Homo sapiens: one gene and its partners. The protein of the gene in region 4 interacts with the protein of the main gene of each other region in a pairwise test. Each region holds a gene or a part of one and is shown on either strand. Other genes may lie near its edges.

Region 1 (4,381 bases), on a different chromosome or scaffold from region 4:
TTAACAAAATTAATGCAGATAAGACCTTCACTCCAACCCCAAAGATCTTACATGGTTAATACTATTTTCCAAAATCAGCAGAACAAGCTGCAGTTACTTCTTTTAGACATTTAGCTTTGGAACTTTGAATTTCAAAGTAAAATTGTTATAAGAAAGCTAGTCAATATATTTAGCAATAGAACCACTCTTTTACTTTTGATATCATTCTGAGGTATTAATTCAGAACCATCTTCCAAGCTATACTGGTAGCACCACAGACTTACTAGCTGCTGGTCATACTGCACATCAATGATTGGTTTGAGCAAAGGAGCTTAAAATGATCTAAGGCTAGCATGATTAATAGTTTCCAAAAAGGATGAACATGAGTACTTTTATGAGCAATGCTAGATAAGGTATCCATGTTTTTCTTTCCCCTGAAGAATGTTGTTTTAGAATATTTTTGCCATCAAAATTTCTGATTTACAATCATGATATACAACTGAGAGATGTACATTTATGGATGTTAAATGACATAAATAAGTAAACTAGACACATACTTTTAAATATAGACCATTATTTGAGTGGGCTTGATACACTGCTAGGATATAACCACACCTAAGGTGAAAGCTCACCCCTACAGGGTATAAGTGATACACGGAAGTCATTATTTGCACTATGGCAATATTCCACGAACTCTATTCATAAACATAGAAGGAGAAGAGAGGTGTTGTACAAAGGATTTTGCTGGTTTCAAAGCACATACAACTTTATTTCCTTTCTATGTAAATATTTGACATAGCTTCAAAATATATTGATTTGGGGAGCAGAGAAGAGCTCTATGAGAACTGTTTGCAGGAGTGGTCGTCAAGGTGAAAACACTGAACTGGCTTTAAAAGAGACACATACTGCAAACTGCTGTGTACTTTGTTGCCATGTGAGAGACCATTATCTGGGTACATGAATTTGACTGGTAGGTCTGTCAGTTCATGGTACAATCAGTGAGGCTAGGAAACTATTACTTATACTCGATCCATACTCAAGTCAAAAGTGGATGGTCTTGGTCATTTCCTATCACTTCCCTTTCCCATGAAAAATAATTCAAACTTCAAACAAATTAGCAGTTTGTCCATAGCCTGGGACCAAACCCTCCTCTACCCTGGAATGAGGAGTGAGGAATATCATTAAGCATTGAGAAAACTGTCAAACATCATTAATAACATTTGGATATGAGTGTTCAAATAATTTCTACACCATACCTCCTTAGTATTAAAGGGCCATACTGCCACAATATAGTATTATTACTCAGTAAAGTAACGGCTAAACAGACATTTATTATGTTAGGGTTTTAATTCAGGACAATCTGTGGTATCCATAGCAACAAAAAGTTGTTGGTATAGATATAACCACAGTGTTACACAAGATGCAATAAAATAGACACAAACAGGGAAAACAATTTCCTAGAGCTAGAAAGCTTTTAAAGATAAAGCACATAATACCAAAAGTAACTGTAATAAGGAGAAAAAAAAAAAGAGTACCTAAATGAACAGCTGTTGCTGCACAGGGAATGTTTAACGTAAACTGAATTATAAACCCAGGCTAACCATGCCTCAGCTGAACCCACAGGAATAATAGGCTAGGGCCACCCCAAAGAGATTGATGTGGAAAATAAATCCAGAGCAATGAAAAGAGCCAGTCGGATATTGTCAGATTCAAGTATTTCGTTTCTGCTTTCTCTTGGTAAGTGATCTAATTCATAAAACACTGACATGGTAAAAGTGGGTAGATATTAGGAGAGCAGGTACTCAATCTTTTAATCACTTACATGCCTAGGAACTCACAAACTACCACAAAGATGGGTGAAACTCCCTGTCAATCATCTTTGAGGAATCAGCTGAAGACTACATATCTTATTTGGGAAACATGAGAAAATGGCTTCCACAAATCCCAACCAGTAAACTTACTCCTGGAGAATATTCTGGAATAGATTATTAAAAGGATGTTTGTTAACACTTATGAAGTAGTGTTTGCTAAGAGAGGCAGGGTTCACGAAAATATTTTGACAGGAATACTCAAGTAACAGCCCCAGGAAACCCATCTGGATTATAGAAGACTTGGCCAGGTCTTGCATGATCAAAAGTCCTTGTGAACAAGAAAGAAAACTAAGTGCATGCTGATGTAATCAGGTGGACTGGAAACTGAATGACTGCCTGTGCTCAAAGCATGAATCTTGAGAGCCCAGCAAGTACTCAATAAATAATTTGTTACATGAACTGACCAAGAGTCAGATCCCTCTAGTTCTCCAGACTGTGAAATACAAGGTCTTTAAAGCTTTCCTTGTTATGGAACAGTTTGAGTCTCTTCACTCTTCTGGTTCTAAATCTCTTCCTCAACATACTCACCCCCATTACCCAGAATAGTTAACAGCTACTCTCTCCCAACCATGGGAAAGCACTGAAATAAAGCACTTTTCACTTAGTAGAGAATAAAACAGCATCTAATCCAACAAGTTCATAGAGTAAGATTTCCACAAACGCATCCATAAACTTCCTTGATCATGTGAAATTTCTATATATTGGTTCTCTTTCTTTTGATCCTCTTCTCAAGAAACTTCCAAACCACTTATTTTATTTTCAACTGCCTTAACTTCCTCATCCCAAATAAAGCACAAGATTTATTTATGCTTATGAAAACATGCAAGCCATAATTTACCTGCCTTACAAGCAGCAGCAAAAACTCAAATTTACAAGCCATTTTACCTTAAAACTGACTGTTCCAAAAAGGAAAAATCAAAGTAAAATATTTTAAGTGCCACCATAATTTTTCTTAATTGGTAAGAGAAATGATGATGCTATGCCATCCACGTTTATGAATCTTGTCAAATGACAAAAGAGGTTAATGTGCTCGGCATTTAAAAATTTTCCTTTTTAGATCTAGGCATGGTATTTTTCAGAAAACCCATAATGTAGTACGTCACTTTTTAAAAATGACAGCAACATGTCTTTATCATGGATTAAGCAAGTTTAAGAAATACTATTTTTAATCTCAAACAATGCACTGAAAGTGAGTCTTAATTTCAGAGTTTTATTGTATTGCACTAAAGGAACAGCAGGATGGTTATACAATTTTCTCTCATTCAGTTTTGAAAATCTGTAGTACCTGCAAATTCTTAAGAATACCTTTACCACCAGATTAGAACAGTAAGCATAATAACCAATTTCTTAATAAGTAATGTCTTACAAATAAAAACACATTTAAAATAGCTTTAAATGCATTCTTCACAAGTAATTCAGCATATATTTTTATATCATGTTTACTTATGCTTAAGAATTAAAGCAAGTATATTTATTACTCTGATGGAAATATGGGAAATCTCTCATTCATGCAATATACAGGGATAATATTCAAGCGAAGGGAAAATTCCCGCTTTTTATTTTTGTAAATGTATCCATATATAATCATCGACATGACAGATGAGGAAACCCATGAAGTTTCCCACTAGTCAGATATACATTTTCACTTCATCAGAAGCACCTGATATCTACAGCTAATTTATAATTAGATACTGTTTCAATGAAACCAAAATGAGCCCTACAAGTTCCTATAAACAAAAGCTTCCAATGTACTAGGACAGTCAGTAATTAATGCATCATTCAGAGGATTATGGCTGTTCCTTAAGAAGTGCAAGTTCAAACCTGTCAACACCAGAGGTAATCATTTTATATTAATTTATACGTAATACCATTTAAAATCTTTATCTGAGTATAACATATGAAAACAGTCTTTCCACAAGCAAAAATGTGGAAACATTTAAAAAATAAGGAGTCATTTTTTAAAGTAACTGATCAGATTCCACAGGCTACTCTTGGACAGGATCTTGCTGGATAGAATCCCTTCATTTGGTGGCTTTTTGCATGCACTTAACTGGACCAATTCTTCTGTGTGTTGTTCTAAGAGCTCACCAAAACATAGATCATGCTGAAAAGAAGAAAAAAGATGTTAATTTGAACATTACTAATTATTAAAAAAAAACTCAGAGCATGAGAGAGTATGCTTTATATAGCAAACTAGTATCACAGAAAATGACAAGACTAATGACAAGTTCACAGTGATTTTAATTTGCATTTATGGACTTTTGCCTAACATATGACTTGGCTCAGTGCATATGCTGTAGTTGTCCCCTATTCCCTTCCAATTTTAGCAAGTAGAACGGCACAGCTGAAAGCTTAATGGCGGATCAGAGCTTAGAGAAGCCATCCAAACATCACACACTCTGGAGTTGTGTCTAATAATAGAATGAGTATCTCTGGAGGGCTCACTTCACGCCAGGCCCTGTTAGGTCTCTTATATACATTACCTTGCTTAATCCTTCAAGGAGTCCTAGAAGGCAGGTACCATGTGTATC
Region 2 (4,381 bases), on a different chromosome or scaffold from region 4:
CACGGCTCCTGCTGCAGTCCTCATTTACTGGAACATGGTCCTAAGATAAGCAGAGACGTTATTTATTATTTACTGCACAAGTGGCACTCAGAGGAATGAAAATAAGAGGAGGAGAAAATTCTTTCCTGGAAGCCAGGCTGGCTTCCCGGGCTTGCGACCGGCCACGCTGTTGAGCAGACACCACTTTTCCTCTGTGGTGTCCCCAGTGCAGGTAAATCCTGTTCCCTGCTCGTTCAGAAATGCCATCGCAAGCAATTTCCTTTGCTGCCACGGTCTTCATAATTATCATCTTTAATGGCTGCATAATATTCCACTGGGCCGAGGTCCCGTCACTGAAAGTCACCCTCGATGATTGGGTATTCATGAGGGTTGCATTTTAGTATTGTCATTTGCAATGTTTGGAGGTCATGGATAAGGCTGCAAGAAACATCTTTGCTTTGTCTCCTTTCGGTAGCGGGAAGCCCTGGGGCTGGGGACTGGGAATTGTCAGGGCTCTGAGACCGGGTCCACAGAAAGGCTTCCCAGAGGGTCATGCCCACCTTTTTGGGCTGGTGCTGGTGGGGCGCCCCTGGGCTCCTGGGGGCCCACCCCTCAGCACGGCTCACACTCTCTCTCTGTGTCTCTCTCTGCACCGCGCCCCCGCCGATTCTGTGTCTCTATCTCTCTGTCTCCATCTCTCTGTCCCCCTGCCTCTCTCTGATTCTGTCTCTATCTTTCTATGTCTCTCTCTCTGTCTCCATCTCTGTCTCCCTGCCTCTCTCTAATTCTGTCTCTATCTCCCTGTTTCTGTCTCTGTCCCCCTTCCTCTCTCTGATTCTCTCTCTATCTCTCTACCTCTATCTCTGTCTCTCTGTCCCCTCCTCTGTTGCGCTGGTTGCTTCCTGGCTGTGAATGGCGCCTCCTCGCCTCCACCCCCGTGTCTTTGGCGGCAGAGGCTGTGCTCTCCTCATTCGTGCTCACCGGTGGAGCCCCCCAAGTGTGAATTTTCTCTCACAGCCTTGGCAGGGTTCTTGACTTTTGGGCACTCCTCCCTACAGAGGGGTGCAGTGCCTACCAGGCATCTGTGCAGGTGCAGGTGTCTGCCTTTCAAGGGCTCTGGGGGTGATGAGCCTGCCTCTCTTGCTTCAGGTCGGGAAACTGAGGCCAGAGGGGGCTGGGGCTTCCCTGGGAGCTGATGCCAGGCCAGGTCCTCCCTGCCCTGCTCCCAGCTGGATAGGGGGCAGTGTGGGGACCTCCTGCTGCCCTTCAGGTTCTCCCCTGCCCTGGGGTCCTTGGAGGGTACTGCCGCCCCTGCCCCTCACAGGGCAGGTGTTTGCATTTCCTGAGATGCTTCCCTGGCTCCCCGTGGTCCTCCAAGGACCCTGCCCCCAAGGGCTGAGAAGGGGGAGGGTGAGAGTGAGGGGCCTACATGGTCCTCAAGGATAACTCCTCCAGGGTCCCCCAAAGGGATGGGTGCCTCAGAGGTTCAGGGCAGGCCTGTGGGAGGAGTGGTTTGGGTGGATACTGCAGTGACTCCAGCAGCCGTGTGCCGTCCTCTACAGGAGATAACAGGGTGGCCATGACCACCTCCCCAAGTGGGCATAAATACTGCAGACAAGCAGAGTGCCCTGTTAATGATGTCTGGGAGGACACTGTCTGGACGGGTTCAATTATTTCAAAAGAGAGCAATTTTCTGCTATCGCCGGATCAGGTTTTTATTGCAAATAGGGTTGTGGCAGGAGCCGGCCATCCAGGGGGGTGGCGGGGAGGGGCGGCTTATCTTCAGGACCTGCTCTCAGAGAGTGGCTGTGGGAGAGGTTGTGCTTGCAGGCCCAGCTGAGCTGGGGCCCCGTCTCCTGGGGCCAGGTCACCTGGAATGTGGGCTCTGCGTGATCCCCAGGGTTAGGGAAGCCACAGAGTGCCAGGCCTGTCCTGGTGTTTTGGGGATGCTGCCTGGCAGGGCAACCTTGACTGCCTGTCCGTAGCAGGGCTGGGGCTGGAAGGGCTCTCTGGATGCCATTGACTCAGTTTCCACCCTGGGTGGGATAGAAACTCTGCTAAAGCCCAGGGTGGGGTTGGGGGTGGAGCAGAGCCCCCCAGTGACCTCTTGGACCCAGAGCCCGGGCTCTCCCACTGCCCGGCGGAAGGAGGCTTGTGCATTCGGGGTCATTTCCTGGGGCTGCACGGCCTGGGGCTGGCTGGCGTGCCCAGGGCCACAGCCCCTTGCCAGGCGACCCTGCAGCAGCATTCCAGGGGGCCCAGCCAGGTTCACTCCTCATGGGGAAACAGGCCTGGAGAGGCTTGGGCCGACGGAGTCACGCAGGGATGCAGGGCTGGACGCAGTCTCCCCCAGCTCCTGCCAGCAGCTCTCGCTATTCACCCCTCCTTGGCCTGGGGTCTGTCCAAGGGATGGTGGGAAAACAGTGTGTGTGTGCACGTGTGTGAGTGCACACATGTGTGAGTATTCCCCTGAGTGTGCAAGTGTGAGAGTGGGCACGTGTGTCAGAGGGCATGAGTGTGCACGTGTGGGGTGTCTGTGTGTGTGAATGTGTGCATGGAGGTGTGGCTATGTGTGCATATGTGTACTTGTATTTCTGTGCGTGCATGTGAATATGCATGTGTGTGTGTGTCCATGCATGTGCCCGTGTGTGTGTGTGAGTGTATCTGCGTATGTGTGGGTGAATGTGTGTGTGTTTGTGTAGAGTGTATGTGAATGTGCAGGCGTAGGCAGTGTGTTTGTGAGGGTGCCTGGCTGTGGCATTAACCATCTGTTGCTGAGCAGCATAACTTGGGGAGGACGCGACTTCGCCTTCTGGGGCACAGAGTTCTGCCGGAATGTGGACAGTCAGGACTTCCTACGGGACAGCACCTCCCCCTCTTCAGGTGTGGGCTCCAGAGCACCTTGTGTGACCACGTGTGACCTTAGGCAAGTCTCCTAATCTGCCTGGGCGTTGGTCTGCTCAGCTGTGAAATGGGGGTGAGGAGAGCAGCAGCCTCTGCGGGCTCGCGTGAGGGTGGGAGTCAGTGCACAGACCCGAGTCCGCACCAAGCCTGTGCTCTGTGCCATCAGCCACTGTTGGCATCACTCGGGGAGGGAATGTGCCCAGGAACAGAGCTCAGGTGGCTCTGGCTGTGTCTGGACAGTCAGGACATCCTATGGGATGACACCTCCCCTCCGGGAGCCCTGGGGCCCTCTCCAGAGATGCACCTTCCCCTGGGCCACGCTCTGCTCCCAGGCAGCCTCCCTGAGCCCTGAGGTCCCCTCTCCAGAGATGCACCTTCACGTGGGCCACGCTCTGCTCCCAGGCAGCCTCCCTGAGCTCCGCGGTCCCCTCTCCAGAGATGCACCTTCACGTGGGCCATGCTCTGCTCCCAGACAGCCTCCCTGAGCCCTGCCATCCCCTCCCTAACTGGGCTTCACGCTTCCCCTTCTGGAAGAGAGGTCTGGCTCAAGTCCTGGGCTCTGTCCTTCTTTGGCTCTGTGACCTCGGGTAAGTGGTGTGACCTCCCTGGGCCTCATTTTCCCCAGTGGAAGCAGGGAAGGAGTGGCTCTGGCATGCTCGGCAGGTGGGGGCGGGGAGGCCTGGGGCCTCTGGCAGGGACAGTGTGTAACTGGAGGCCTCGTGACAGATGGGAGATAAAGGGCGGAAAATAGCTTCAGAGCCTGGACCTGTAAGTGTCCCGCTAGGCCCGCTGCTGGGGAGGGCGCGTCCACCCGAGGGGACTCTACCCCCACTCTGGGAACAGGAACCCCATGGCGCCTCCCTTGGTGCTGGGGGGCTGGGGGGTTCTTACCAGCTCCTCTACTGAGAGGGGGCACCGAGCTCCCTGGCGGAGGGGAAACTGAGGCCCAGAGAGGGAGAACAGCCTGCCAGGTTTCAGAGCCTGGGTTGGGACAGAGGCGGGAGTCAGGGCCCGGAGCTCCCAGTTGTGGGCATGACCAGCCCGTACTGCTGGTGGGAGGTGGGGCCATGAGGGCTGAGGCCCAGGACCTTGGTCTGGGGTGTGACCCTCCAACAGTCTTTGGGGGTCTAGCCCAGTACCCCAAAGACCCCACCTCATCTTGAAGCTGCTGAGAGACGTGAGGGCACTGATGGAGCCCAGCGGCCGTGGCAGTGCCGAGTCCCTCCCCCTCGAGACCAGCCTGCAGTGGGGCGTGGGGGCGGGCCAGTGGTTCTTGCCTGGTTCTGTGGCTTGGATAACGCCAAGCTCTGGGGCCCAGCCACTGCTGCTCCCTCCCACTCCTGCCCCGTCCTCCAGGACGCCGCCCGCTGGCTTCCCGCCTCCTCCCAGGCTGCTGCCTCTGCCTGGCCCGTGCCGCCCGCCCTTTTGCCCACAGCCCACCTCCTGATGTTTCTCTGTCCTCCCTGAGGGTTCCTCGGGGCGGGCAGTGCCCCCCATG
Region 3 (3,514 bases), on a different chromosome or scaffold from region 4:
GCCCAGGGATGCACGGAACATGGCCAGGGATGTGCAGAACACCTTCTACGACATCGTGGCTGAGCTCGGGGCCATGGAGCACGCGCAGGCGGTGGACTACATCAAGAAACTGATGACCAAGGGCCGCTACTCCCTGGACGTGTGGAGCTAGGGGCCTGCCTGCCCCACCCACCCCACAGACTCCGGCCTGTAATCAGCTCTCCTGGCTCCCTCCCGTAGTCTCCTGGGTGTGTTTGGCTTGGCCTTGGCATGGGCGCAGGCCCAGTGACAAAGACTCCTCTGGGCCTGGGGTGCATCCTCCTCAGCCCCCAGGCCAGGTGAGGTCCACCGGCCCCTGGCAGCACAGCCCAGGGCCTGCATGGGGGCACCGGGCTCCATGCCTCTGGAGGCCTCTGGCCCTCGGTGGCTGCACAGAAGGGCTCTTTCTCTCTGCTGAGCTGGGCCCAGCCCCTCCACGTGATTTCCAGTGAGTGTAAATAATTTTAAATAACCTCTGGCCCTTGGAATAAAGTTCTGTTTTCTGTATTTGCCTGGTATTGTGTGAGTAGATCTGGGACCTCCACCTGCATCAACTTAACTAACTCAGACCCCAGGAACCCATGTGGTGGGGCCACCCAGCCCTCCCCTCCCCCAGGAGAACACACACGCTCAGGCCACCTCTGGGCCTCTCTTTATTGAGGGCACTGGGCCCAGGTCTTCCTTCAGGGCCCACAGCGCCCATAAAACCCAAGGGAGAATAGAAGAGACCCCCTGATACACGCACACTCGAGGGGCGCCTCCCATCCCCTCCCACAACACACAGGACAGAAGCCCCTCTGGGCCGGCAGGGGAAGGCCCAGCCTCAATCCTTCTTGCTCCCGTGCCGCTGACTGTGAAACTTGTGGTGCACAACCCTCAGGGTGGTGAAGAAATTGCCGAGGAAAAGGAGGAGGAAGGGAAAGCCGCACATAAGCACCTGCCGGAGGAATAGGGTGAGGGCTGGACATGGGCCTGGCCCCCCATCCATCCTGTCCAGGGACCCCGGCTCACCTGCCACTCCTTGCACTGAGGGTCCTGGGCCAGGTTGAACAACGTCAGCGCGTTAAAAAGCTGCCAGAACTAAGCAGGGAGGAGGCATTTTACTCAGAAGACCCAGTCCCTGCTGGAGCCCGAAACCGGCGCAGAGGACGGACAGACAGACAGGCAGGGACACAGAGGCACGACTTACGTGTCCAAAGAAAAGAAAAGGCAGCAGGAAGGTGAGGCCCCGCCACATCCAGGACTGGAAGCCCTCTGCGGGGAGGAAGGTCAGGGCACAGGACGGCCAGGGACAGAGGGGACGCTACCACTCAGACCCGGGATGGGAGGAAAGGGGAATGTCCAGATGCCAGGGCCACTCCCGACTCACCCACAGTGAGGTCCATGGTGTGCCGCTCGCCCAGCGCCCGCAGGCGGTAGAGGCAGCCGCTCTGGTAGTAGTACTGGAGAAACTGCACGAAGCCTGGGCCGGGCGGAGGACAGAGGAGCAGGGCTGAGCCCCGGGAGGGGTTCCCTGCCCCTGCCCCCCACCACGGGTGCCTCCAGGGCTCAGCACAGACATCTGGGACACTCACTCTGGTACATGGAAAAGGAGAGGAATTGGTTCCGGAATTTCTGGTACATGAGACCGTCGGGCCTAAGGTAAAAAGTGGAGGGCAGTGTGGGGACCCTTGGGGATGCCGTGTATCCCCTCCTTGTCCCAGCTCCTGCCCCTGCCGGGGCCCAGCCACTCACCACGTCAGCATGACTCCCGACAGGAAGGTGGACACGTAGTGATGGAACACCCACCAGCCTTTGATCCTGGAGCAGAGAGCCACCATCACCCCCAGCGCCTGTTCCTGCTTCCCGGAGGGTCCTGGCACCCCATTCCATGCTCCCCTCCCTCAGGGCCCGCCCTGCCCACCGGGAGCCGTTGTTGATGAGGATGCTCTCCCGGATGGTCAGGGTGCAGTAGTACCAGACCAGCAGGAAGTTGAAGGCAGCATCTGTCACCCTGCGGAGGGAGGGGACCGAGGGTTGGTACTGCAGCGACTGGGGATGGGGTGGGTCCTCGGCCGGGGTGGGACGCCCACCTGGAGTTGAGCAGGAAGCGGCAAGTGAAGGAGATGAGGATGAGGATGATGGTGAGGTAGAGCTTGAACTTCTCATACTCGTCCTTGTAGGCAAACCTGGGGGGCGCAGGCCGGTGAGACGGGTGGGGTGCTGGTGGGGCCCATGTGTGCCCCCACCCCGGGAGGGCAGCTGAGCCAAGGGTAGTCGGATGGAGGAGAAGGCCGGGTTGGGGGGTGGAGGGGAAGGCCAGGTGGGGTGGGGGGTGGAGGGGAAAACCAGGTTGGGGGGAAAGCCGGGTGGAGGGGTGGAGGGGAAGGCCGGGTGGGGGGCTGGAGGGGAAGGCCAGGTGGGGGGCTGGAGGGGAAGAAGGCCGGGTGGGGGGCTGGAGGGGAAGGCCGGGTGGGGGGGTGGAGGGGAAGGCGGGGAGGGGGTGTGGAGGGGAAGGCGGGGAGGGGGTGTGGAGGGGAAGGCCGGGTGGGTGTGTGGAGGGGAAGGCCGGGTGGGTGTGTGGAGGGGAAGGCCGGGTGGGTGTGTGGAGGGGAAGGCCGGGTGGGGGGGTGGAGGGGAAGGCCGGGTGGGGTGGGGGGTGGAGGGGAAGGCCGGGTGGGGTGGGGGGTGGAGGGGAAGGCCGGGTTGGGGGGTGGAGGGGAAGGCCGGGTTCCGGGGGAAGGCTGGGTGGAGGGGTGGAGGTTGAGGGGGGGAGGGGGGTAGGGGGCTAGGGGTGGAGGGGTGGAGGTTGGGGGGTGGAGGCTCGGCCTGATTACTTAGCCTGCTTGCTCAGGAGCGTGACGTTGACGTTCCCCAGAACCAGGCTCAGGTACAATCTAGGGAAGGGGGTGGCGGGGTGAGGAGAAGCCCGAGTGACAGACAAGCCACCGGTACTCAGCCAAGCCTGCCAGGCCAGAGCCTGGGCCACCACCCCACCCCCTCACCCGCTGCTTTCCGCAGGGCCTTGGCATCGGGTTCTGACCTTGGAGGCTGCAGACCCACTCCCTGCCATGCCCAGCCTTCCTGGCCGCCTGCTCCGGAATCCTGACCCCCGGAGGAAACAGTGTTCCCCCCCATCTCCAGAGTCTTGTCTGAAACTCCCCCACCTCAGGGCACCAAGAGAACCCGGCTCTCCCTCCCTGCTGAGGGCCGTCCCCCTGTCCCCGATTGCTCCCCTGTGCGATGGCCACCACCTACCCCCCAGCTCCCTGCCACCTCCCCTCCAGAACCTGCAGTACTAGGTTCCACTTCAGAGACCCACACGCCTGGCCACATCTAGGACGACCTCCCAAACCAGAACAGAAACTCAGAGCTCTGACTGTGGGCTGACCCCAAGTACTCAGCCTCCCGGGGCGTTTCTTCCCACCACGACCCCCCTTGTCCCTCACCGAGGCCCCCACGCTCTCCAGTCCCAGATCTCATCAGAGCTGGCTGAGTCCCCAGGCCACCCGCCAAT
Region 4 (4,381 bases):
TAGAGTCGGGGTTTTACCATGTTGGCCAGGCTGGTCTCAACTCCTGATCTCAAGTGATCCACCCGCCTCAGCCTCCCAAAGTACTGGGATTACAGCACTTTGGATTAATTTATTAAATACCCATTACCCTCTACCACAAAGAAGGGACCTAATCTGAACCTTTAACCATCTGGCCTCTGGGCCCAGGCCCTCAGATTGACTTGATATGAATGGCAAAGATCCCATCACCAACTGGGCCTAGGCTGGCCTTAGGGCCCAGATCTGCATGGGAAAAGTGTGGAGCCAGGGAGCGGAAGGTGGGGAGCCTGCCCAGGAGGGTCCTTGCAGCAGCGACCTCCTGCTCTGGTCTCTCCTGGCCACCCCACCAGCCCAAGGGAGGCCCAGTCCTGTCAGCTCCTACCTGGCACCAGCTCTGAATGCCTTACTGGTCTCCAGCCTTCAGTGGAGCTCTCTCCAACCTAATCTCAAGGTAGCAGCCTCAACCCTGACCCTGTCACTGCTCTGTTCGGCTCCCTAGACCTGGCCTGGTGCAGTGCGGCTCACGCCTGTAATCCCAGCACTTTGAGAGGTGGAGGCAGGTGGATCACCTGAGCTTAGGAGTTTGAGACTAGCCTGGCTAACATGGTGAAACGCCATCTCCACTAAAAATACAAAAATTAACCAGGTGTGGTGGCGCTCGCCTATAATCCCAGCTACTTGGGAGGCTGAGGCAGGAGAATCACTTGAATCCAGGAGGCAGAATATGCAGTGAGCCGAGACCGCGCCATTGCACTCCAACCTGGGTGACAGAGCAAGACTTGTCTCAAAAACAAGTGGGGGGTTGTGCCACATCCACTAACAGGCCCTCCCCCTGTGGCCCTGCCACCCCAATCTTGGTTCCCGCGCTAACCACACTCAAGTATGCTTTCCATGGATGGTGCCTGGTCCTGCCATGCCTCCAAAGTCTTCAAATGTGCAGAGCTCACCAGCCAACCTCAGACCGGCCCATGCCTACGCCTATTGGTCCTTTTTTAAAAATTAAATTTTATTATTATTTTTTTCACAGACAGGGTCTCACCCGTTTGCCCAGGCTGGAGTGCAGTGGCCTGATCATGCTCACTACAGCCTCAAACTCCTGGGCTCAGGTAATCATCCCACCTCAGCCTCCAGGGTAACTCGACAGGTATGTACCACTGCACTTGGCTCATTTTTATAGAATTGCTGTAGAGATAGGGTCTTGCTTTGTTGCCCAGGCTTGTCTCGGAACTCCTGGCTTCAACTCCCGCCTGGGCCTCCCAAAGTACTGAGAGGATGGGTATGAGGCTGGCCTATTCGGGCATCACCTTCTTGGACCCTCAGAGTCTGCTTGGGGGCCTCCTGGGGGTCCTGCAGCCCCTGTCTCTGCTCCCCTCTGGCTCCAGCTGACCACTGCACTCCAGGCTGGGCTACAGGGCAAGACTCCATATCAGAAAAAAAAAAAATTAGAATGGAGATACTAGTAACACCTATTGCACAGGACTGTTGTGGGGATGAAATGATCCGGCACAGAGTAAACCGCTAAGAGAGGGGCTGCTGCTCTTATCAGTTTCTGGTTGTCAGCCCAAGGCCTGGCATAGAGCAGACATATGTTTGTTGACTGAAGACATGAAGGCAACCTATTCCCAGAGGACCCACTGTGAGGTCACTGCAGCTGCAGATACAGGAAACTGGACTGGTTTTTATTATCTTTTTTTTTCCAGCAAACTTGCAAATGAGTAGTTGAAACCCTTCTTTGGTGAAGGAAGACACACCTAGCCATGTGTCCCCACCCAGGCTACAGCCCGCACTTAGCCTCCTACACACTCACCAGTGGAAACACCAGGCGCCAGTCAGAAGCCCTATTTTACCCTAAGAGGTTAGGATGCAAATCTAGTATGTGCAGAAAAGAGTACCACACCCACGGCCTTGAGGGCACCTGCAGGGCTCCGAGTGGGAGGGAGGGCAGGTTCTGGACAGAGCAGCCTACATTTGGTGAACAGCTCTGCACTCGACAGCTCGCCTATGGCTCATCTGGAAGATGGGGAAACGCCATCTACCTCCCAAGCCCCTCCCAGGTTGCCCAGAAGCACAAGCAAGTAGAGATGTGTTCTGCTCAGCCCTCAGCAGGTGTTCGAGGGCCGAGGCTGCAGGAGTGTCAGAGCGGGGTTGGGGGCAGAGGTGGATGGGGCTGGACCTGAGGATGAGGTCGAACTCCTGGTAGGGACCCTCAGACTCTCATGACCTCGCCCAGTCCTGTCAAAGCCAAGCAGGCGGGATCTGACACTTCCTGTTTCACAGGCAGGCAAACCGAGAGGGTCAGGGGCCACGCTGGGGTCACAGGGAGGGCCAGCTGAGTGGGCCCAGCTAGAAAACCCTGGTCCAGTCTTCCACGTGCCACCCTCCCAGTCACAGCCTGGCCCTGGACCATGAGGGTGGGGTGGCACAAAGCCCTTGGAGCGCACACAACTCCAGTGTAACCCAGCAGGAAACGCCCTGAGCCTGCAGCCAGGCTGGACCTCAGTTCCACCCCCTGCTCGGCCCCTGCTGTGTGAGGCAGAACAACCAGCTCACCTCTGAGCCTTGCAGAAACAGCCGGGCCTCCAGGGCTGCTGAGAGGATGAAAACATACACTACTGCCCATTTTCCACCACCTAGCAGGGGCTCCATAAAAGCTGGTTAACACAATCAACAGCCTTAGAAGAGAGGAGACCAGAGGCCACTCACAGCTCAGGACGCCACGGTGGACTGAACATGTTGCTGCCTTTCTGGAGGGTAGTGTGACCATCAGCATCCACCAGTCACACACGCACATGACCTTTGATTTCTAGGGATGCATCCCACACACACCCCTGCATGGACCTGGCAGCCTTGAAAAATTGAAGCCATAGATCACAGGCACCGCTGTGCTGTCATCACAGCCCTTCGGGAGGCCGAGGCGGGCACGTCGCACGAGCCCAGTTCAAGACCAGCCTGGGCAATACAACGAGACCCCCTCTCTAAAAATAAATTAACAATAAAAAATTTTAAAAATATATGAAATGGGCCAGCCGCGGTGGCTTACACCTGTAATCCCAGCACTTTGGGAGGCCAAGGTGGGCAGATCATGAGGTCAGGAGTTCAAGACCAGCCTGACTAACATGGTAATAAAACTCCGTCTCTACCCCGTTTCAAAAAAAATTAGCCAGGTGTGGTGGTGCGCGCCTGTAATCCAGCTACTCGGGTGGCTGAGGCAGGAGAATCGCTTGAACCTGGGAGGAGGAGTTTGCAGTGAGCCGAGATCACACCATTACACTCCAACCTGGGCGACAAGAGCGAAAAACTCCATCTCAAAAAAAAAAAATATGGGCCGGGCGCGGTGGCTCACGCCTGTAATCCCAGCACTTTGGGAGGTTGAGGCGTGCAGATCACAAGGTCAGGAGATGGAGAGCATCCTGGCTAACACAGTGAAACCCTGTCTCTACTAAAAATACAAAAAAAATTAGCTGGGCGTGGTGGCGGGCGCCTGTAGTCCCAGCTACTCGGGAGGCTGAGGCAGGAGAATGGCTTGAACCCTGGAGGCAGAGCTTTCAGTAAGCCGAGATCATGCCACCACACTCCGGTCTGGGCGACAGAGTGAGACTGTCTCAAAAAAAAAAAAGAAAAAGAAAAAAAAAAATCCGTAGTATGTACCTTGTTTCCTCAAGTTTCAAGAAAAAAAAAAGACAGCTCACTTTTTTCTCTTTAAACACTGATGTGTAGCTAGTAACTTGGATAAAAAGGTGCCACCCTACAAAATGTGCTCAGCGTGTTCTGATTCCAGGATGGGCTTGGCTGCCTGGGCTGGGCCTGGGAGACCTCCGTCCGTCACAGTGGAAACTGAAGCCAAGTGCCAGTGCCGCATCCGGCTTCAAGATCTAGAATCAGAGCCTTTGAAATGGAAAAGGGGCATCTGAAACGGCACCCCCACCTGCGGCTTTCAGAGCTAAGGCTCCAGAATGAAGGGGTCACCTGGCTAGTGACAAGATGGGAGTCACCCTGAGCTGCAGCTCCCCCCAAGATTCCCCTGTGAGAGGCCCAATATGGAGTATTACTATTTTGAGACAGGGTCTCTCTGTCACCCAGGCTGGAGTGCAGTGGCATGAACATGGCTCACTGTAGTCTCCACCTCCCTGGGCTCAGGTGATCTTTCCACCTCAACTTCCCAAGTACCTGGGACTACAGGTGCACGCCACCACACCTGGCTAATTTTGTATTTTTAGTAAAGACGGGGTTTCACCAGGCCGGGCACGGTGGCTTACGCCTGTAATCCCAGCACTTTGGGAGGCCGAGGCGGGCGGATCACGAGGTCAGGAGATCGAAACCATTCTGGCTAACACGGTGAAACTCTGTCTCTACTAAAAATACA
Region 5 (4,381 bases), on a different chromosome or scaffold from region 4:
GTATTTTTTGTAGAGATGGGGATTCGCCATGTTGGCCAGGCTGGTCTTGAACTCCTGAGCTCAAGTGATTGGCCTGCCTCGGTCTTCCAAAGTGCTGGGATTACAGGTGTGAGCCACTGCACCCAGCCCTTCAGTACACTTTCAGTAGAGCTAATGACAAGAAAGGGGAATGAAAGTCAAATTATCAGGAAAAATAATAAAGAGAAAATAAGAATCTAAATGTCATAAACGAGACTGGATTAAAAAAGAAAAAAGGCCAGGTGTGGCGGCTCATGCCTGAAATCCCAGCACTTTGGGAGGCCGAGGCAGGTGGATCACGAGGTCGGGAGTTTGAACCAGTCTGGCCAACACAGTGAAACCCTGTCTCTACTAAAAATACAAAAAATTAGCTGGGTGTGGTGGCACGTGCTTGTAGTCCCAGCCACTTGGGAGGTTGAGGTGGGAGAATCAATTGAACTCAGGAGGTGGAGGTTGCAACAGTGAGCCGAGACCACGCCATTGCACTCCAGCTTGGGTGGCAGGGTGAGACTCTGTCTCAAAAAAAAAAAAAAAAAAAAAAAGTTGAAAGCTGGATGTGGTGGAACACACCTGTAGTCCCCCACTTTGGGAGCTTTGGGAGGCCGAGGCGAGCGGATCACTTGAGCCCAGGAGTTTGAGACCAGCCTGGGCAACGTGGTGAAACTCCATCTCCACAAAAAAAATACAAAAAATCAGCTAGGTGTGGTGGTGCACACCAGTAGTCCCAGCTACTCTGGAAGCTGAGGTGGGAGGATCACTTGAGCCTGGGAGGTTGAGGCTGTAGTGAGCCGTGACTGTGACCCTCCACTCCAGCCTGAGCAATGGAGTAAGACCCTGACTCAAAAAAAAAAAAAAAAAAGTAGTCTATTAATATACTTTTCTATATAAAAGCATTAAACCAAGAAGGATGGAAGAATATAAACCCATTTTATGATAGTGGAGTGGGGATGAGAAGATATGCCATTGGGGATGGTGGTCAAAGGGGATTTAATTTTATCTATGATGTTTCCATTTTTTACATATATCTGGAAATAAATATAATTGATGATGATTTTTAATTCTGGGCATTGGTCTGTAATTGTCAACATGGTGATGTGATTGAGAAAAAGAGGTCAACTGACAAAGAAAATGTGAAATTGTTTATACAGCATGCTCCTATCAGAGTATAGCTTCCTTGGTCTTCAAAGGGGTATACATCTGTGGATAACACTCTCACAGAGGCAGAATTCTAATTCACTATACCATTGTGGGAGGGGGCTGGAAGAATAGACCACTCTCTCTGCTCTTTCTGCCATCTGACCATTCTGGGGACATTCTGGCTACACTCCTTGCCTATTTACTAGATGCAAGTAAGTGATGCAAAACAACCTCAACAAATTAATGCGTGTTTATTTTAAGACGGGGGAAGCAGAAGTAGTTTCCAAAAGCATTTCTCAGTAGGTCCAGGCTTCAAATCAGAGGTCCATTCCTGCAGTTTGTTATAATATTCTTTGCATTGTTCTCTGTAAATTCACTCCTAACTTTGAGAAGTTTTAGAGAAAAATGAGAATGTCGGTGGTCAAAGAGAAAGTAATATATAACAACTTCTTATTAAAGAATTGAAGCAATGAAAGACAGAAGAGCTAACTAAGGTTCAAAAGGCCTGACATAAAGGGTTTGGGCTTATGAATGGTTATCATTTCAGGGAAATGATATTTGTGACACTGAAACATTCACGACACTAGAAAAATCACCCCCCTTTCCACCATTCTTGTTTCCCCACAACAACTTAAAAGGTTCAAATAATAAATTTACATAAAACACTTATAGTTTATAAAAACGAAAGGCAATCCAAAGAATATATATCCATATGGTCAGGAGTGGTGGCTCACCCCTGTAATCCCAGCACTTTGGGAAGCAGAGGTAGGTGGATCACCTGAGGTCAGGAGCTCGAGACCAGCCTGACCAACATAGAGATACCCAGTCTCTACTAAAAATACAAAATTAGCCAGGCGTGGTGGCACATGCCTGTAATCCCAGCTACTCCGGAAGCTAAGGCAGGAGAATCACGCGAACCCGAGAGGCGGAGGTTGTGGTGAACCGAGATCGCGCCACTGCCCTCCAGCAGCCTGGGCAACAAGAGCGAAATTCCATGAAAAAAAAAAAAATTCCATATATATATGTATGTATGTATATATATACGTATGTATATGTATTCTTTCCACCTACAAATATTACAGTAATCAAAGTTACCAATATAAACAAATAATAGCTAAACTAAAGTGAGTTATTTGCAAAGGACAAGGGAATTCAACTTCAGCTATTAAGAAGTTGCCACAGGCCAGGCACGGTGGCTCACGCCTGTAATCCCAGCACTGTGGGAGGTCAATTCCGGCAGATTACGACGTCAGGAGATCGAGACCATCCTGGCTAACACGGTGAAACCCCGTCTCTACTAAAAATACAAAAAAATTAGCTGGCCTTAGTGGCGGGTGCCTGTAGTCCCAGCCACTCGGGAGGCTGAGGCAGGAGAATGGCGTGAACCCAAGAGGCACAGTTTGCAGCGAGCCAAGATTGCGCCACTGCACTCCAGCCTGGGCGACTGAGCGAGACTCTGTCTCAAAAAAAAAAATAAAAAATAAATAAATAAATAAATAAAAGAAGTTGTCACCAGTTGGCCCAAGTGACAGAGTGAGACTTCGCCTCAAAAAAAAAAAAAAAAAAAAAAAAAGAAAAGTTGCCTCTAGTTTAAAAACCCTGAAAGATTAAATGGTATAAATTGAACATACCATTCATATTACAATTAAAATAGTCTTCACTTTGACAGTTTAGACAACACAAACACCCCTGGAATTGAAGCTCCATAAGGGCATTTTTGTTATGTTCAATTCACCACTATATACCAAGGGCCTAGAATAGTACTGGGCATATGAAGACACTCAGTATTTGTTAAATAAATTCAATAAGTGTAAATGTTTAATAATTGATTTACTGAAAAATAACATTTTTTTTTAAGACAGGGTCTTGCTCTGTTACCTGGGCTGTAGTACCCAGGGGCACAAACACAGCTCACTACAGCCACGACCCCCAAGGAATCCTTCCACCTCAGCTTCCTGAATATTTGGGACCACAGGCATGTGCCACCAGGCCTGGCCTAATTTTTAACATTTTTGTAAAGACTGAGTCTTGCCATGTTGCCCACACTGGTGTCTAACTCCTGGGCTCAAGCAATCCTCTCATCTCGGCCTCCCAAAGTGCTGGGATTACAGGCATGAGCTACTGTGCCTGGCCTAAATAAAATACGTAACTTAACCTAAAAGCAACAGAACAATATGTAACACACAGTTCCTTAGTCTTCACGAAGATAAAACCTGCATTAAAGAAATAAACAAATGAACAGTTATCTGAGCTAAATTCTGTCCCTCAAAAATTGCCACCAAAAACCAGGTTGGGGAGAAGCCAAATTCATGAAAAGAATTCTGGGTCCTAATAGGCTGACATATTTTAGTCTCTTGGCCCTGTTGGTATTCCTCAAGTGAACCATGTTGAGTATCTTTGTGTTCAACTTGCAGTAGGGCCAGCCCAGGTGAAGAAAGCTGTAAACATAAAGTAGATGGGGGAAAAATGGCCAAACTGGTTTACATTAGTCTTAAGTGCCTTCTATTTGGCTAACATAGAGTGTTTTGCTGTTTTATAGAGATGTATGTTTCATTTGCTGTAGCCCTGTGAAGTAGGGTTCTCATTTTATAAATGATAATATACATAGTGTCAGAATCTAAGTTCAAAGTCACATAGCTAGTAAGTGGCAAAATTCGAATTTCATACTTTCTATCTCTGAGCCCAAGCTTTACTCACTATACCCTACTATCTCTTATCATGAAAGATATCACTGACTTAGGACTTAGGGCAGTAGGTTTCTGCCATATCTAAAACATTTAAAAAGCTTTAAAATATAGATGCCCAGGCTCTACCCTACAGAAATTTTTGATCTTATTGGTCTTACAGTCCAGCATCCATGCATATTCTGAAATGCTCCCCAGGTAATTCTAACATGGAAGTAGGTTGCCAACTACTAATCTAGACAATAACGGTCTTTGAAAGTCATGTTAAAAATCTACCTTAAGGTATGTCAAAAGAGTACAAAGATGAGAGTAGTACAAAGATGAGAGTAAGCCAGTGTCATAGTCACCTACTTCAGTAAATGGCAGCCAGAATCTTCGCATTTCTGTTAATAAGTTTTAAATGCCTCACTAGCTTTTTTTTTTGAGATGGAGTTCCACTCTGTCACTCAGGCTGGAGTACAATGGTGCGATCTCAGCTCACTGCAACCTCCGTCTCCCAGGTTCAAGCAATTCTCATGCCTCAGCCTCCCGAGAGTTGGAAC
Region 6 (4,381 bases), on a different chromosome or scaffold from region 4:
ATAGAACTTAACAAATATTTGTTGGGTTAATAAAATGTTATCCCATTTATGAGATGGTTCCTAAAGTAATATTCTCATTTATGGTGACAGTTTCTAAAAACACATATAGGCCGGTGCCGTGGCTCACACCTGTAATCCCAGCACTTTGGGAGGCCAAGGTGGGCAGATCACTTGAGGTCAGGAGTTCGAGACCAGCCTACCTAACATGGTGAAACCCCATCTCATAAAAACTAGCCAGGTGTGGTGGGAGGGACCTGTAGTGCCAGCTACTCCAGAGGCTGAGGCAGGAAAATCGCTTGAACCCAGGAGGCAGAGGTTGCAGTGAGCCAAGGTAATGCTACTGCACTCCAGCCTGGGCGACAAAACAAGACTCCATCTCAAAATAAATAAATAAATAAATACACATATAAAGCTTTAAAATAGGGCTGGGCATGGTGGCTCACACCTGTAATCCCAGCACTTTGGGAGGCCGAGGCGGGTGAATCACCGGAGGTCAGGAGTTCAAGCCCAGCCTGGCCAACATGGCAAAACCCCATCTCTACTAAAATAGAAAAATTAGCCGGGCATGGTGGCATTCACCTGTAATCCCAGCTACTCAGGAGGCTGAAGCAGGAGAATCACTTGAACCTGGGAGGCAGAGGTTGCAGTGAGCTGAGACCATGCCATTGCACTGCAGCCTGGGCGACAAGAGTGAAACTCTGTCTCAAAAAAAAAAAAAAAAAGTTTTAAAATATCACAATGTTATTTCAAGTTACTCTTTTGACAAATGACTATTTATACACAAGTCAATGGCTTCCAAATTTTCACTTGTAATACCCAGTAAGGAAATAATTTTACACTGCAATCCAATAAACACCATATACATGAGATATTATAGGCCAGGCACAGTGGCTCATGCCTGTAATCCCAACATTTTGGGAGGCCAAGGCGGAAGGATCACTTGAGCCCGGAGTTTGAGGCCAGCCTGGGCAACATGATGAAACCCCATCTCTACAAAAAAAATACCAAAAAAATTAGCAGGGTGTGGTAGTACATACCTGTAGTCCCAGCTACCTGGGAGGCTGAGGCGGAGGATTGTTTGAGCCCAGGAGGCAGAGGCTGCAGTGAGCCAAGATGGCACCACTGCACTCAAGCCTGGACAACAGAGCCAGACTGTCTCCAAAAAAAAGAAAAAAAAATACATTATATATAACTGAACAAAGTTTCACAAAATTTTACCCTTGATAAGAGAGATGCACTTTGATATTTTCTATCAATGTCATAAGATATTACAATCATTTTTATGTGATTTTTCTAAACTACTAAATGGTGGAAAGATAATGACATGTACTACTTTCATTCATGATTTCAACAACTCATGAATGCACTGATTCAAACAATGCAAAATTAATCTGCCAGGGAAAGACAATTCAATTATATTACTAATTCTAAACTACCACATTCAAACTCCAGTATCATACTCTAACCAGTCATTAATCAAAAAAATGGTAAGCTACAGACACAGGACACTTAAGATTAGGAACCTCTTGCTAAAGGAGGGGCCCCAAAGTGACATCAGATTGGAAAGAGAAGGATGAATACCAATGTAAATCTTCCCTCTCTCATCTAATAGCAACCCAACTCTTGAAGACTCATAAGCCAAAAACTTTGGTGTTATCCTTGACTCATTTTTCTTTCATTCCCCAAATCTGGCGCATCATTAAATCCTATTGGCTCTTCCATCACAACACATCCAAAATCTGACACTTGTTCTGGTACAACCCACTATCTCTTGCCTAATTACTAAAACAGCCTCCTAACTGGTCTCCTCAATTCTGCCCTTGTCCTCTTAAGAAGGCAAAGCCAGCTGGACTTCCTGGGTGGAGTGGGGACTTGGCAAACTTTTGTGTCTAGCTAGAGGATTGTAAATGCACCAATCAGTATGCTGTAAAAATGCACCAATCAGCACTCTGTGTCTAGCTAAAGGATTGTAAATGCACCAATCAGCACTCTGTAAAAATGGACCAATCGGCACTCTGTAAAATGGACCAATCAGCAGGATGTGGGCGGGGACAAATAAGGGAATAAAAGCTGGCCACCCCAGCCAGCAGCATCAACCTGCTCTGGTCCCTTTCCACACTGTGGAAACTTTGTTCTTTCACTCTTCACAATAAATCTTGCTGCTACTCACTCTTTGGGTCTGTGCCACCTTTAAGAGCTATAACACTCACCGCGAAGGTCTATGGCTTCATTCTTCAAGTCAGAGAGACCAAAAACCCACCGGAAGGAACCAACTCCAGACACACTCTTCCTTCAGTCTTTCACAACAATGTAGTCAGAACGATCCTATTACGCCATTAAGTCACATCATGTCACTCTTCTGCTCCAATGATTTCCCATCTCAGAATAAAAGCCAAAGTCCTTCCTAAAACCTGTGAAGTTGTACATGATTTGTCCTCCCCTGATCATTCTGATCTCATGTGCAACTATTCAACCACTGTGGCCTCCCTGACTGTTCCTCAAACATACCAGACATCCTCCCATCTCAAGGCCTTTGAACTTGTTTCCTCTGCCAGGAATGCTCTATGCTCTTCCTACAGATACCCTCATGGCTAGCTCCTTTACTTTGCTCCTGGCCTTTACTTAGTCATCTTCATAAAGTTATCTCGGCACCATCGCTAAAATTTCAAACCCTCCTCCTCACACCACATAAATATTCCACAGTCCTCTTCCCTGTATTATTTTTCTTTTTTTTTTCATTTGTGACGGAGTCTCACTCTATCACCAGACTGGAGTTCAGTGCCACAATCTTGGATCGCTGCAACCTCCAACTTCTGGGTTCAAGTGATTCTCCTGCCTCAGCCTCCCAAGTAGATGAGAGTACAGGCACATGCCACCATGCCCAGCTAATTTTTGTATTTTTAGTAGAGATGGGGTTTCACCATGTTGGCCAGGATGGTCTCAATCCCGACCTCATGATCCATCCGCCTCGGCCTCCCAAAGTGCTGGGATTACAGGCCTAAGCCACCGTGTCCAGCCCCCTGTATTATTTTTCTTCTTAGCACTTACCACTACCTAATGTAGTATATATTTTAGTTATTTACTCTGCTTATCGTCTGCCTCCTGTGCCATGTAATCTCCATGAGGGCATAGCTGTTTATTCACTACTAAATCCCCAGCACCTAGAACAGTGTCTAGAACATAGTAAAGGCTTAATAAATATTTGAATAAGTGAATGAATGAATAGGCTTGGAATGAACAAGAAAACAGAATAAATAAGAATAGCTAATTAGGCTGAGCACAGTGGCTCACACCTGTAATCTCAGCACTTTGGGAGGCCCAGGCAGGAGGATCCCTTGAGCCCAGGAGTTCCAGACCACACTGGGCAATAGTGGGACCCCAATTCTTTTTTTTTTTTTTTTTGAGACAGAGTCTGACTGTCGCCCAGGCTGGAGTGCAACGGCACCATCTTGGCTCACTGCAACCTCCACCTCCCGGGTTCAAGCGATTCTCCTGCCTCAGCCTCCTGAGTAGCTGGGATTACGGGTGTGTGCCACCACGCCCAGCTAATTTTTTTGTATTTTTAGTAGAGACGAGGTTTCACCATTTTGGTCAGGCTGGTCTGGAACTCCTTACCTCATGATCTGCCCACCTTCGCCTCGCAAAGTGCTGGGATTACAGGTATGAGCCCACACCCAGCCAGTGGGACCCCAATTCTACAAAAAATTTTAAAAATTAGCCAGGCGTCGTGGTGCACACCTTTTCCCAGCTATTCGGGAGGTTGAAATAGAAGGATCACTTGACCCCAGGAGACTGAGGCTGCAGTGAGCTGCACTCCAGCCTGGGTGAAAGTAAGACCTTGTCTCAAAAAACAAAACAAAAAAAACAAAACTGCAGGTAAAGAGCTGCAGCTCAAGCTCCAAGAGAAACCTTGGCACATTAGTGATGTCTCTGGCTATATCAGCATGTGGTTGAAACAGGTTAGTTACTTCTGGAATCTTCACAGAGGAAAAAAAAAAAGAAAGAAACAGGTTAGCAACTATTACTTGAGACTGAATTAATGCTCTCTGTAAGGGCTGAGTGTTCCCTCCAAGCTCACCATCTATTCTGAATCAATCAAGAAAAAAAATGGAGGGAAATAAAACCACAAATGAAAAACATGATTTTTTTTTTCTTTTTTTGAGATGGAGTCTCACTCTGTCACCCAGGCTGGAGTGCAGCAGCACCATCTCACCTCACTGCAGCCTCCACCTCCCAGGTTTAAGCGATTCTCCTACCTTAGCCTCCCAAGTAGCTGAGATCACAGGTGCCACCAAGCCTGGCTTATTTTTGTATTTTTAGTAGAGACGAGGTTTCGCCGTGTTGGCCAGACTGGTCTCGAACTCCTGAACTCAGGTGATCT
Region 7 (3,203 bases), on a different chromosome or scaffold from region 4:
AGGAGTTCAAGACCAGCCTGGCCAACATGGTGAAACCCCGTCTCTATTAAAAATACAAAAAATATCTGGGCATGGTGGCGGGCGCCTGTAATCTCAGCTACTCGGGAGGCAGAGGCAGGAGAATAGCTTGAACCCGGGAGGCAAAAGTTGCAATGAGCCGAGATTGCGCCACTGCACTCCAGTCTGGGTGACAGAGTGAGATTTTGTCTCAAAAAAATCAAACGATCAATCAATCCCAGCTTTGCATGCACTGTGTCACCTGGGCAAGTTACTTAATCTTTCTGTGCCTAGTTTCCTCCTCTGTGAAATGGAGCTAGAACCTGAGCACCAGTTCACACATGGTTGTCAGGATCCAGCAGGATGCAGGTGAGGGTGTGGCACCGTGCCCGGGCCCTGGACAGTACCCAGCAAGCCTGAGCTGTTTTCATTTCTGCTGGTGGCAGCAGGGCTGAGATGACTTCCTGCAGGAGGCAGCAGTTATTCTGGGCCAGGAAGAAACTTGAGAATAAGGGCAGATCGTGGAGGGCCTTGCAACCACAGGAAGATTTTGTTCCTCATTTGGGTGGAGGCAGCGGCAGTCCTTCTGGCTGTGATGTGCAGAATGGTGGGGAGGGAGTGACACCAGGAAGGCGGCTGTCCCAAAGGTCTGAGCAGAGAGTTTGGGGCAACAGGGAGGGAGCAGTGGAAAGCAGGCTGATATTCAGGAGATAACCAGGACTTGTAAGACTGTGGGCATGGGAACTGAAGGGGATGCTCTGCAAAGGGCCTGGGCCCACCTTGGCTCCTCCCTCACTTCTCAGCCTAGCCAGGAGCAGAGAATGGGACAGTCTTAACCCTAGACATCCCAATGGGCTTTGGGCCTTGGGGTGGAGAGAGGATGAGAAAAGATGTCTGGGCTTTTGCAATCGGGAGGGATGCCTGGAGGAGGCAGAGGTGTTGAGAGGCAAGGGGAGGGAGGAGATCTCAGGTACAAGGTTTGTTCCCTGGGTGGTGGCTGCAGCCACAAAGTCTGCCAAGCAAGGTCCAGCTCAGGCATGTCAGGATAGGACTCGGCCCCCGATCCCTTCAACAGTCCCCAATGCCACTTGGGCTGCCAGGCCCTGTGCTGGGTCCTGGGGACACTGATGGCTCTGTCTGCCCTCAAGGGGCTTCCCAGGGAGCCGGACAAGCAAGGGGCTGAGGCCTCCTGGAGAAAGCATGGTAGTGGAGTCGGCGCAAGGGGCGGGGTGAACACAGAGGATGTCAAGGAAAGACCCCACGAAGAGGTGGCATCTGAACTGGGCTCTGAAGGCAGAGAAGGAACAGGGGAGGCACAGGAGTGGTGGGCTGGGGGGCTTGGTGCCCCAGCTGGGGGTGCCTTGTGCAAAGGCACCAAGGCAGTGAGAACCAGGAGCAGGGCTGGCCTGGCCAGCAGGGTCTGGGTGTGGAGAGCCCAGAGTGCCAGGTGGAAGGGTCTGGCCTTCTCCAGAGGGCAGCGGGAGCAGTCTTGGCTGGGAGTTCTGTGGGCCAGAATGTGACTGGGAAAAAACATGGCAGGGATTGCCCCACTCCTCCCGTGCAGACCTCTCAGGCCCTCCCATGCCCCCTCCACTGGCCAGATCAGGAAATGAGCCCAAGGTTGCTCAGAGCAGGAGCTGGAGGCCCAGCCTCTAGCCTTCACGCCTACCCCAGGCCGGGTCACCCTGTGTGGTGTTGATATTCTGGGCTGGGGGGGAGGGAGAAAGGAAGAGCATTCACCTCAATTTATCTGGAGATATGGAAGAGGTTGTGAGGCTCCAGCCTCCAGCTCCACACACTCTGCCCTTCCTCTGCCAGGGCAGGGACTGGGAACAACCTGAGACGGCAGCCACACCTGATGCCACTCTCCCTACCCCTTGCAGGTATGAATTTGGCCCAGCCCTGTTCGTGGGCTGGGCCTCAGCTGGCCTGGCCGTGCTGGGCGGCTCCTTCCTCTGCTGCACATGCCCGGAGCCAGAGAGACCCAACAGCAGCCCACAGCCCTATCGGCCTGGACCCTCTGCTGCTGCCCGAGAGTACGTCTGAGCTCCGCCTGCCCTGGCCAGCCCCCCACCCAGTGGCCCCCTTGCCCAGCATCCAGCCAGCCTCGCAGCACCCTGGGCAGGGCCACTGGGGCATAGGATGGGCATAGGTGCTCTGAGCAGCTTGTCCTCAACACAAGCACCCACCCTGCAATCTGAGACCCAGATCCTCAGAGAGACACCAGAGGCAGGACCCAGCCCCCAGGCATACACACAGATGCAGGTCCAGGCACGGTCTTGTCTGCACAGCCTGGTGGGCACCAGCATGCATCCCTGGAGACAGGCCCTCAGGCACCAGCCCGGCTGTTTACTCACTGAAGAGCTGCTTGGGTGTCTGCTACGTGCTGGGCCCTAGAGATAGAGCAGTGGCCAAGACGTACCTTAGTACCCAGGTCCTTGGGGTGAGCAGAAACCTTCACCCTCCCCAGTCCCATGGGCTCCTCACAGCAACCCCACAAGGGCAGTGCCGGGATGCTGAACGTTCACACAAGGACAGGGAGGGTCTGAGTTTAGGTCTCAGGTTCTTCCAGTGCGCCCAGGGCTGGGGGCCACCTACACAGATGGTGAGGTCGGACCATGGCGCCCCTGCCCCCGGGAATGGGCCCCAGGCAGGGCTGCTGTGAGGGCCAAGGTCTGGCCACGCTGGCCAGTACCCATGTCCGGGCCTGAATGCACAGCCCCTGCCCCCGACCCCACAGCTCACTCCACTAACCAGCTCTCTCTCTTTTGACTTTCAGACCAGTTGTTAAATTGCCCGCCTCCGCCAAGGGCCCCCTGGGTGTGTAATGTCCAGTCCCCAGCCAGGCTCTGTCCCCTGCCATACCTAGACTGTGTGTTTCATATTTTTTTGGAAAGAGAAGTGAACATCCAGCCCCAATCATGGTATCATTCGGTCTGTCCTCAGCGTGGCTTGGACGGGGCCTGTGTCAGAGTGGTCAGTGCTGACCCCTGGGGCTCTTGGGCAGAAAGATGAGGAGACAGAGGTCCAGGGTGGGTTACATAGCACATCCAGGGCTAAGCAAGAAATAATTCAGAGGTCCTACCCTCTGTCTAGGGACCCCCCTCCCAAGCCTGGCCTTGGCCTTGGCACAAAGTCCTCCTTGATAGGAGATCCCACTCACTCCTGGAGGCTGCCCCTGAGGCTTGGCCCAGCTCTAGGAGCAG

Evidence for each region.
Region 1: the proteins of BIK (region 4) and CNIH1 interact in binary tests that used the Homo sapiens proteins (3 or more experiments, as listed by UniProt).
Region 2: the proteins of BIK (region 4) and C14orf180 interact in binary tests that used the Homo sapiens proteins (3 or more experiments, as listed by UniProt).
Region 3: the proteins of BIK (region 4) and TMEM120A interact in binary tests that used the Homo sapiens proteins (3 or more experiments, as listed by UniProt).
Region 5: the proteins of BIK (region 4) and MARCHF5 interact in binary tests that used the Homo sapiens proteins (3 or more experiments, as listed by UniProt).
Region 6: the proteins of BIK (region 4) and CYB5B interact in binary tests that used the Homo sapiens proteins (3 or more experiments, as listed by UniProt).
Region 7: the proteins of BIK (region 4) and CLDN19 interact in binary tests that used the Homo sapiens proteins (3 or more experiments, as listed by UniProt).

Annotation. Positions count from the first base shown.
Region 1 is NC_000014.9:54,423,888-54,428,268, forward strand, and holds part of CNIH1 (protein cornichon homolog 1), read right to left. Parts: intron 3,955-4,381; coding exon 3,927-3,954; 3' UTR 1-3,926. UniProt on the Homo sapiens protein: Involved in the selective transport and maturation of TGF-alpha family proteins.
Region 2 is NC_000014.9:104,582,074-104,586,454, reverse strand, and holds part of C14orf180 (nutritionally-regulated adipose and cardiac enriched protein homolog), read right to left. Parts: intron 41-4,381; 5' UTR 25-40; coding exon 1-24.
Region 3 is NC_000007.14:75,986,331-75,989,844, forward strand, and holds the end of TMEM120A (transmembrane protein 120A), read right to left. Parts: intron 2,895-3,514; coding exon 2,835-2,894; intron 2,187-2,834; coding exon 2,091-2,186; intron 2,012-2,090; coding exon 1,922-2,011; coding exon of another isoform or gene 1,819-1,921; coding exon 1,753-1,818; intron 1,655-1,752; coding exon 1,593-1,654; intron 1,481-1,592; coding exon 1,388-1,480; intron 1,273-1,387; coding exon 1,208-1,272; intron 1,099-1,207; coding exon 1,030-1,098; intron 956-1,029; coding exon 842-955; coding exon of another isoform or gene 702-841; 3' UTR 501-701; downstream 1-500. Other genes in the region: POR (NADPH--cytochrome P450 reductase), read left to right, coding at 7-151. UniProt on the Homo sapiens protein: Multifunctional protein involved in mechanosensation, and plays an essential role in lipid metabolism and adipocyte differentiation. May function as a potential ion channel involved in sensing mechanical stimuli.
Region 4 is NC_000022.11:43,116,630-43,121,010, reverse strand, and holds part of BIK (bcl-2-interacting killer), read right to left. Parts: intron 1-4,381.
Region 5 is NC_000010.11:92,293,663-92,298,043, reverse strand, and holds part of MARCHF5 (E3 ubiquitin-protein ligase MARCHF5), read right to left. Parts: intron 1-4,381. UniProt on the Homo sapiens protein: Mitochondrial E3 ubiquitin-protein ligase that plays a crucial role in the control of mitochondrial morphology by acting as a positive regulator of mitochondrial fission and as an important regulator of immune response.
Region 6 is NC_000016.10:69,427,015-69,431,395, reverse strand, and holds part of CYB5B (cytochrome b5 type B), read right to left. Parts: intron 1-4,381. UniProt on the Homo sapiens protein: Cytochrome b5 is a membrane-bound hemoprotein functioning as an electron carrier for several membrane-bound oxygenases.
Region 7 is NC_000001.11:42,734,708-42,737,910, reverse strand, and holds part of CLDN19 (claudin-19), read left to right. Parts: intron 1-1,880; coding exon 1,881-2,033; coding exon of another isoform or gene 2,034-2,149; exon of another isoform or gene 2,150-2,776; coding exon 2,777-2,825; 3' UTR 2,826-3,203. UniProt on the Homo sapiens protein: Forms paracellular channels: coassembles with CLDN16 into tight junction strands with cation-selective channels through the strands, conveying epithelial permeability in a process known as paracellular tight junction permeability.